Linked DNA regions of Homo sapiens: region 2 is linked to region 1. Evidence: fine-mapped expression QTL. Tissue or cell type: sun-exposed skin. Region 1 holds a variant in brackets; the other region holds the start of a gene. All regions are shown on one strand. Distances are from middle to middle.

Region 1 (5,206 bases):
GGAGAGGGAAAGGACAGGTTAGAGGGGGTGGAGATGGAAGTGAGATGTCTCTGAATATACTGTATCATATCAGCTAATAAGTGTGGAGGGAATGACAGAAATAGAAAAACATTATTGTACAACCTCTGATGAAATAATAGTGTCAGTCAATGATGATCATTGGCTGCTAAAACCATGAGGTGAAAGGTGGATATAGAATGTCACAATGAAAAGATCACGCTGTCACCACCTGCACTTCTGATCAATCTTAGAATCACTAAAAGTGGGGCAACCTATACTTATGAAGTATTAGTATACTTCATATATATAAAGGACCTACCTATACTTATTCTTACCTCTAAAGTTAATCCTGAATCTAAACAAGCCTTGGACTAACTTTCAGTTTACAGGAAATGGAATAAAGGAACAAATTAAAAGATACCACAGGGAAGCAAACAGAGAAATCCAGAATCCAGGACTTTTTACAGGACAGTAATCTAGTTTCTTTAAGAAGTCAGTGGATCCGGGCTTGGAGACACGTACCTGTAGTCCCAGCTACTTGGAACGCTGAGGCAGGAAGATTGCTTGAGCCCAGGAGCTCTGGGCTGGAGTGTGCTATGCCAGTGGGGTATCTGCACTAAGTTTGGCACAAGTTTGGCATTGATATGGTGACCTCTCGGGAGCAGCGGGGACCACCAGATTGCTTAAGGAGGGGTGAACTGAGCCAGGTTGGAAATAGAGCAGGTCACAACTCCAGTGCTGATCAGTGGTGGGATCGTGCCTATTAATAACCACTGCACTCCATCCTGGGCAACATAATGAGACCCCTTTTCTTAAAAATAAGTCCGTGGTATGAAAAAAGTGAGGGACAGGAGATGAAGGACTGCTTTAGATGAAAATAATTTATGGGACATCATAAACCAACTGGAAAAAATATTTTTAAGGCAATGAGGGAAATTTGACTATGGACTGAGCATTAGATGATACCAAAGAATTAATTTTGTTAGTTGTGATAATGGCTTTATTTTTATGTAAGAAAATATTCATATTTTTCAGATGTGACATATGTAAGGGTGAAATTTGCTTTAAAATACTTCAGCAAAAATAGAAAATTTGAAATAGATGAAGGAAGTGGTATTATCTTGATAATTGTTGAATCTAGGTGATGAATTTATGGAGGTTCATTATACTATTCTCTCTACTTTTGTATCTGTTTAGAAACTTTCATAATAAAACATTTTAACTCCTCCAACAATTCCTCCTCTCACTTAGAAAAAATATCCAAAGTCAACACCTTGATCCCTGAGGTCCTACTTGATCTAGTCCCTGTCACCTCTCTCACCTCATCTTCCATTCTCCCCCTGTTCATTTCACCTCAGCCAGTTACCAGGCCATCTTGCTGTTCCCTAAACATGCCAAGTAGATTCCTTCTCAGTATTTTTGTCCTTACTCATCCCTTTGCTTGGACTGTTCTTCCCCCAGTGGCAGCTGGTTGCCTCACTTCATTCAGATCTCTATCCAAATAACACATTTCCAGGAAGGGTCTCTGTCAGTACCCCAGCTGAAATAGGACTCCCACTGAGCCCTTGATTTTTCTTCACGGTACTTATCACTACCTAATGGTGTGGCTTGCTTACTTGATTGATTGTCTGCCTCCCTAAACTAGAATACAAACTCTCTGAGGGCAGAGTCTTTGTTTTATTCAGTGCTGCAATCCCAACATCTGGTAGGTTGGCACAAAAGTAATTCTTTTTTTTTTCCTTTTTTTTTTTTTTTTTTTTTTTGAGACAGAGTCTCACTCTGTCACCCAGGCTGGAGTGCAGTGGTGTGATCTCAGCTCACTGCAACCTCCGCCTCCCAGGTTCAAGCGATTCTTCTGCCTCAGCCTCCCGAGTAGCTGGGGCTACAGGCATGTGCCACCATGCCTGGCTAATTTTTGTATTTTTAGTAGAGACAGGTTTTCACCATATTGGCCAGGCTGGTCTTGAACTCCTGACCTCGTGATCTGCCCACCTCGGCCTCCCAAAGCGCTGGTACAGGCATGAGCCACTGCACCCAGCCTTAGTGCAAAAGTAGTTCTATTAGGTTGCACCAACCTAATAGAACAGTGGTTGCCACATAGTAGGAACTCCATAAGCATTTGTTAAAATAACCAAAGAACAGGGTAGTGATCACTTGAAAGCACTGAGTGATTTGTCAGGTTGACACATTTGCTGAACTGCTAATCCTCTACAAACACCATGTGCTATAATGACCTGTATATGTCATATGGTGTGACAGATCTCGGAGATAAAGAGTGAGGCATCTCCCAGACTCTGCTTGTCTTCAGGGAGGACTTGTTTGCACAGATGCTTTGGGGCTGTGTTACCTGGCTCACCTCCAGGCAGTTGGTTTGTAAAGCGGGTGGAGCCCTCCTCTAGCTATCAGCATGACTGCTGTGTTTTCTGA[T/C]TCACCAGTTCCCTGTCCAAGGCCATCCCTAAGCTCTGTTTTCTTCCAGTTACTGGGGAAAACAGGAAAACTGGTTGTTGAGAAAAAGCGCCACCAGGTCTTGGGAGCCAGCATGTAGGCTCTCAATGTTTTTAATTCTTCCTCAGACATCGTGCCTTGAGACTGTGGTGGTTTATGTTGTGGAGGCCTGAAAAGAGTGAGTTCCCTGTGACAGTTGTGGACCTGGCAGCAGCAGTGAGTCTGAAGGTCTGTTTACTTCCCTCAACAAGGAATTGTTCCCCTATCTACATTACATCCAACCTCTCCCTTGTCCCTCTTGGTACTTTCTTGTTATGCAGCGACAGAATAGAAGTGAGCTTGGGCCTGAGGCACCTGAGGGATGCCTGAGCAGAGGCCCCATTCATTTCTTTTCAGCTCAACAAATGCTAAGGGACCTTGACCACTGATTTTGCTGCACATGAGGTAGTGTTGTGCCATTGGGTTGGAGTCTTGCTTCTGCCTAGAAAGCACCAGGGCCAAGGAAAAACATTTGTAGGCTCTGAGGAGGGCCCCACTGTTTTCTCTTAAGGGAATAGACCACAAAGGAACTGCAAGCAGAGGGACTCTAAATCCTGAGCCCATCTTCTGAGAGTCCCTTCAGTTTATTCTGTTATTTTTATGGTTTGATGATTTAAATGAAACTCTTTAATCTAATTACAATACACTTAGGTATACGGCATGACATTTTAACTCTTTCCTCCAAATAATAGCTTACTTCCCCTGTAGCACCATTTATTGAACAATCCACCTCTTCCTTGTTTATTTGTGAGGCTTCCTTTATCCTGTATTCTGTGTGTGTGTGTGTGTGTGTGTGTGTGTACACACAGACATGTATATATATATATGTTATTTCAACTGTTTATTCTTTCAGATGAATTTTAGAATAAATTTCTTACATTTCAGACAAAACCCTGTTAGTATTTTATGTACATTAAACATTCAGTTTAATTTGGAAATAATAGCTTCACAACATTGAATTGTCTCATCCAGGAACGTGGTAAATCTCTGTTTATTCCCACATTCCTTTATGTATCTCATTAATGTTTGTAGCTCTTTCTCCCATTGTGTTTTCTAGTCTGGTTGTTATTGGTATATAGGAAAAGTTTATTTTTGTGTATATTATCTTGTATTTAGCTGAACTCTCTTATGAATTCTAACAATTTCTCAGCTTCTTCTCTTGAGTTTTTAAAGTAAACAACCATATTGTTTGCAAATAACTTATAGCTTAGTTGTTCCTGGGCCAAGTTCAGACATTAGGCTATCATAAGGTAAACTCAAATCCTATTGGCACAATATAATAATACATTGTAATTTTGTTCCTAAAGACTCATCTCACACTGTAAAAATGCCAAAATTGATCATGAAAATAAATGAAAAGAAAATCCAAATATATTATTTTAAAAACTCGTGTTAACTATGTAAAACCAAACACTCAATAGAAATGCTACATCATAAATGCTTCTTTTGGATTGACTAGCCTAAAAAAAAAGAAATGCTTCTCTTGGAGGATTATTTTTTCTCAGAGACTGGACTATCTCAGATGCCTTAAAATAGACATCCATTGTGAAGAACATGAAAAACTACTGAATTTGTACACTTTAAAAGAATGAATTATATAGTGTATTAGTCTATTAGTCTGTTCTCATGCTGCTAATAAAGCCATACCTGAGACTGGGTAGTTTATAAAGGAAAGAGGTTTAATTGACTCACAGTTCAGCATGGCTTGGGAAGCCTCAGGAAACTTACAATCATGGTGGAAGAGGAAGCAAACACATCCTTCTTGACATGGCAGCAGGAAGGAGAATAATGAGTGAAGAGGGGAAAAGCCCTTATAAAATCATCAGATCTCATGAGAACTCACTCACTATCACAAGAACAGCGTGAGGGTAACCACCCCCATGATTAAATTACCTCTCAGCCAGGGACAGTGGTTCATGCCTGTAATCCTAGCACTTTGGGAGGCCTAGGCAGGTGGATCACCTGAGGTCAGGAGTTCAAGGCCAGCCTGGCCAACATGGAGAAACCCTGTCTTTACTAAAAATACAAAAATTAGCCTGGCATGGTGGTGGGTGCCTGTAATCCCAGCTACTCAGGAGGCTGAGTCAGGAGAATGGCTTGAGCCCGGGAGGCAGAGGTTGCAGTGAGCCGAGATTGCACCACTGCACTCCAACCTGGGAGACTGAGCAGGACTCTGTCTCAAAAAAACAAAACAAAACAAAACAAAACAAAACAAAAACCTCTCACTACGTCCCTTCCACGACACATGGGGATTATGGGAATTATAATTCAAGATGAGATTTGGGTAAGAACACAGCCAAACCATCATTCTGCTCCTGGCCCCTCCCAAATCTCATGTCCTCACATTTCAAAACACAACCATGCCCTTCCAACAGTCCCCCAAAGTCTTTTTTTTTTTTTGAGACAGAGTCTCACTTGTCACCCAGGCTGGAGTGCAATGGTGTGATTTCGGCTCACTGCAACCTCTGTCTCCCGAGTTCAAGTGATTCTCATGCCTCAGCCTCCTGAGTAGCTGGGATTACAGGCATCCGCTACCACAATTGGCTAATTTTTGTGGTTTTAGTAGACATGGGGTTTCAGCATGTTAGCCAGGCTGGTCTCAAACTCCTGACCTCAGATGATCCACCTGCCTTGGCCTCCCAAAGTGCTGGGATTACAGGGGTGAGCCACTGCACCCGGCTGTTACAAAGTCTTAACTAATTCCAGCATTAACTCAAAAGTC
Region 2 (5,113 bases), 70 kb before region 1:
ACATGTATATTGGAATCACTTTCTACTTTATGTTGCCTTTAAAGAACATAATTTAATTCTATCAGTTTCCCAAGTTAAGAATGTAAAAGTAGAACTGTGGTGCTCTTACTAAGCTGTGGAGGTATAGCCTGAGGAATCTGACCAGATAGTGCAGGGTCTGAAAAGCATATTGTTTCAGGAATGGCTAAAGGAAAGGCGGGGATAATTGAAGAGAATTAGGTAGAAACACTTAACGGTTTTCCAAATACTGTATGTAAAAAGGAAAAAGATTATAGTGGAGAAGCCCAGCAGATTAACACCTTAATCAAATGATCAAAATGAACATCAGTAGTAATAGAATAAATCAAAATCATGTGCTGCCCAATAGGCTTCAGTGAGAAGAAAACAGCACCACTTCTGTGATATTCCTGCTAAAAGATACACAACCTGAATCTAATCATAAGTAAATGCCAGACAAAACAATATTGAGAAAAGGTTTACAAAATAACTGGCCTGTAATCTTCAAAGTGTCAAACTCATAAAAGTCAAAAAAAGACTAAAGAACTGTTTTAGAATGGAGACTAAAGAGACAGCAAAACTAAATAAAACGTGATTTTGAACTAGATCTTTTTGCCATAAAATATTTACTGGGACAATTGGTGAAACTTGAATGGGGTTTCAGGAATAGATGGTAGTAATGTAGCAGTGCAAATTTTATTGTTTTGATGGTTGTATTGTGGTAACTTAGAAGAAAGTCCTTTTTTGTAGGAAATATACACTAAAGTATGGGGGGTTATCAGGCCAATGATTCATCTCAAATGGTTCAGGGAAAAAATGTTTTTTATGCTGTTCTTGCAACATTCTATACGTTTGAAATTATTGCATTAATATCTTAAAATTTTGAAACAAAAATTTCAGTGTTCCTTGAGCCATATCATTAAACAAAAAAACGTGAAAAAATATGTGAATAGCTGTTGCCTAGAAGAAGGCTTCTAAAGGAATGAACTAACATCACTGGGTAGAAATTACCAGGAAGCAAATTTCATCTCATTATAAAGATCTTTATAACATAATTAGACTTGTCCAAAACCCAAATCTCAACTGGACTACCTGTGAGTCAGTGAGTTCCCTGTCAAAAAAATTTTAGACACTGGCAGTTCACCTAACAGATATTGTTAGAACGCATTTTTCTTTGGATGAAAAACAAACTAGATGATATACAAATGTCTCTTTCAACTTTAAGGCACTAGCATGCCATGATTCTACTTCTTTTAAACGAACCTCTGTTTTGAATCTTGAATAACCACTGTATTAGAATAATAATTAGACATCTCTCAGGCACTGCTCCCTTCTTTAGAACCCTGCTATGGTCCTCAACAGCATTAAAGACTTAGCTTCCCCAGTAAAGATTATTAACTGGTGATAGTATTCAGAGGCTTTAGGCACTCCCCTTCTCCACCTAAAAGAAGTATACTCATTATTCAAGACCCATCTCAAAGTTTTCCCACTCTGTGAAATTCACCCCAAATTCCCCAAGCAGAGTTAGAGCCATCCTTTTGTTTTTCATACCACTTTGTATGAGAGCAGAGCTACTACTTCCATAGGACTGACTCTGTTGTATATTTTTAACTTGAAAAATTTTTCTTCTAAAAGATAGGTACAAAAAATTTAAAAATTTTTATATATTCAAAATTATTTATGTAGTCATCTATCTCCATTCCTATCCCCTGGACTTTGAACTCCTTCAGGGCCTCGAAGCTATATTATTTATCACCTGAATCCCTCAACAAGCTTTGCAGTGCCTGGGCCTCAAGTAGGTTGGCACACTTATCACCATCAGCAACCACCACAGAGTTTATAATCTAATGAAGTTCCAGGATAAACAAACATATACAAGTCAAAGATGAACAGAACCACATAAAGCAAATACAGAATAAAACTAGCTTCAAGGGTACAGAGACGTTGACAAATGTTATTAGGCTAAGGGCTTCTTGAAGGCAGGAATCATGATTCATCGATTCCTGTATTTGCAGTGCCCAAGCACAGTGCTTGGCACATAGTATATGCTCAAGGAATATATATGTTACGTTCGAGGAATCAAATCGCCTTACCTTTAAATACACCTTTTATGAGTGGCGCTACTGCTGTATTGAAGACTTCTTCCTGTTCAGTAGAGGGATCAAATACAAAATCGTAGGTGAAGGATTTATCTGTACCAACCACCACCTAGAGAAGGCACGGGACAAGGCGTAAGGTTAAAAATGAAAGGCAAGACCACACCCCTCGTTACCATTTGGCCCCAGCTGTTCAGACACAGGCTCTGGACTCTGCTACGCACCTGAGGCTCTCCGGGCACGAAGGAAAGGCACATCTGGCAGCCCTCGCTAATCTCTTTGGGGACCAGAGGGCGACAACGCAGCGCCACTCTTACGGGAATTCCCTTCACCTCTTCCTTCATGATCCTATCTCAGCACCGTCTCTGCGAGGGGGAAAAAGAAGGCTCGCTGATGAATGTTAGTAGGTCAGCAGGGGTGGGAGGGCGTCCTCCCCGGTTCCGACCCTCCTCAGCGGGAACACTGACTTGGGAGATTCACGCTCCATGACTTGGCCAGGGCTGGACCGCCCGTCAGCCCTGCACTCTAAAGAGAGTGCACGGGCTTCTGAAAGGCAAAGAAAAAACTCCAACGGGGACGGCGACAAAGAACCAAAGCCCTAGGGTACTGGGTAAAAACAGGTTCTGAGCTAAGGTGTGCCCCCGTAACTCACCAAACTAAATGTCCCTTCCCCGTTCTCCCTGGGCCTCCCGCCGCCCTGTCCCAGCCGGAGCTTTAACCGCCAAGTTTCAAATCCGTCCCGGAGACGCCAACCAATTGCAGTGCGGACTGCCCGAGGGCGGAGCGCGCACGTCGGCGCGCGCAGGCCGGCGCGGTGGGAAGGGGAGGGTCAGCTCGTTGCACCCTGGCCCGGCCTCTTTTCGACCCTGCGGAGCATCCGCTTCCGGTTCCCAGACTGAATTGTCAGTGAGCGGAGTCTGAGGTCGCTGTGGACTGCCCACTGGTGAGGTGGTGCGGCGTTTATGCGGCTGAGAGTGCGGGTCTCAGGCAGAATGTGGGGCGGGGACGTGGGAGGTGGCTGGTCAGGTGAAGGAAGGGTCGATCTAAGGACCCTACCATTACTAATCACATCTAGGAAATGTGGGGCGGTGCCTTGCCCCGAGTCCCTGCGGATAGTTAACACTCCCTTGGGCTTCGAAAGTAGATCTTTTTAGACTCGACCCTGATTTCCTCTTCTCCAGGTTTGAGACGGTAACATCTGTTTTGCAGGATTGTGAAAAATGAGGTCCTCTTTCTAGAGTACCTGACAGGTTGCTTGGCATCCAGAAGATGTTTAGCTAAGTTAAGAGTTTTCTTCTGTCTTCCTTCTCTCCTCCAACCTTAACACCTAGATATGGGCTGGGCCTGTAGACTGACTGCCTTGGAATGGGTTGGAGCTGCTGTCTGAAACTTGCTGGGCTGCTCTCCCTTTTGAACCACTTTTTGTCTGTTCTGATTCACTCTTCCAGGGCCTTGCCCGAGATGGACAGCCGGATTCCTTATGATGACTACCCGGTGGTTTTCTTGCCTGCCTATGAGAATCCTCCAGCATGGATTCCTCCTCATGAGGTGGGAACCATCTGTATTCCTGAGTAGGAGATTTTTTTCCCCGTGGGCATGAGATGATGCATGAAAGGTAGGATAGCAGGGTTAGAAGGCGAAACGGAGAGTGAATCTTAGCACTTGTAGCCAGAGGACCCAGAAGCTGGATTCTGAGCAACAGGACCCATTGGGAACTTCTTTATGGAAGCCTCCTGCTAGGGTCTGTTCACACCGGTTAATTCTGGAAATTTGGAGCCTTCATTTCCATACTGTTAAGAGGTTCAGCGCGGTGGCTCATGCCTGTAATCCCAGCACTTTGGGAGGCCGAAACAGGCGGATCACCTGAGGTTGGGAGTTCGAGACCAGCCTGACCAACATGGAGAAACCGCGTCTCTACTAAAAATACAAAATTAGCCGGGCGTGGTGGCACATGCCTGTAATCCCAGCTACTAGGGAGGCTGAGGCGGGAGAATTGCTTGAACCTGGGAGGCAGAGGTTGCGGTGAGCTGAGATTGAGCCATTGCACTCCAGCCTGGGCAACAAGAGCAAAACTCCATCTCAAAAAAAAAAAAAAAAGGTGAAGAAATGGGGAGCTACTGGGCTGCCCCAGTGCTATCCATCTACTCATTTAGTCTGTGTTATCTGTTCTACTTAAATTAAGTCTATGACCTTTCCTTTTCCTGACTTCAGGGTAATTCATTAGTGTTTCAGATGAAGGTAGGTGTGAAGTAAGACTGGTAAAATTTCTGGGGTTGCTGTGTCTTGCAGAGGGTACACCACCCGGACTACAACAATGAGTTGACCCAGTTTCTGCCCCGAACCATCACACTGAAGAAGCCTCCTGGAGCTCAGGTGAACTTATGAAACCTTATTTCAGGCTAGATTCATCCATACCACAAATTGGCAGTGTTGGGGGGATGGATTGGAAAGCAGGTGCAGATGTGAGGAAACTTTCCTTCTTGTGGACAGAAAAGCTGAGATAACACTTCTGCAACTTCTGACTTTCCTCTCAGGGACACACAAGCTGAGCTATTGTACGATGATGCTACTAGTTGTTCTTGTGTTTGTGGTCTCCATTGAGCCCCCATTCTGTGCTCTTGTCTTACAGTTGGGATTTAACATCCGAGGAGGAAAGGCCTCCCAGCTAGGCATCTTCATCTCCAAGGTATTTATGCCCAGTAGGCAATATGGATCGTTACTTCCCTTTGTTAAATTAACAGATTGCAGAACCCTAATGTCCCAAGGGCTGAGAGGATGACTCTGGATTCATAGAAGGGGTATAATGGAGACACCCCCTTTCCCACTTAAAACTTTTCATTTGGCAGGCCATCTGTCTGCATACATTGTCACAGAAAAACAATAGCACCATACATTTGAATAGCACCGAATTTCACTGACAGTCTTCTGAAATTATCGCATCCCAATCACATGTATTCTCTCTTTACCAACAGGTGATTCCTGACTCTGATGCACATAGAGCAGGACTGCAGGAAGGGGAC

Alleles and levels. Positions count from the first base shown, and alleles are read on the strand shown. Sizes are in standard deviations (SD) of each study's normalised expression.
For the expression in sun-exposed skin of the gene that starts at base 2,969 in region 2, allele T in region 1 goes with a lower level than allele C (small effect, 0.11 SD a copy in GTEx).

The links. PIP is the estimated chance that this variant, and not a neighbour inherited with it, causes the effect.
Region 2: PDZD11 starts here. The variant in region 1 is the best candidate, but not a certain one, in a credible set for the expression of PDZD11 in sun-exposed skin (GTEx, PIP 0.85).

What each region holds. Positions count from the first base shown.
Region 1 is chrX:70,217,613-70,222,818 of GRCh38, reverse strand. It overlaps the pseudogene RN7SL581P. Among named protein-coding and RNA genes, the nearest start is that of AWAT1, 14 kb to the left of the region's middle. The variant T/C (reference allele first, on the strand shown) is at 2,428.
Region 2 is chrX:70,287,783-70,292,895 of GRCh38, reverse strand. It overlaps PDZD11 (PDZ domain containing 11), which reads left to right and starts at 2,969. Exons shown (of 7, transcript NM_016484.5): 1 at 2,969-3,036; 2 at 3,542-3,641; 3 at 4,383-4,466; 4 at 4,723-4,779; 5 at 5,066-5,113. The coding sequence starts at 3,555. It overlaps KIF4A (kinesin family member 4A), which reads right to left and starts at 2,792. Exons shown (of 31, transcript NM_012310.5): 1 at 2,746-2,792; 2 at 2,318-2,458; 3 at 2,091-2,205. The coding sequence starts at 2,437. RefSeq lists a silencer at 2,812-2,991.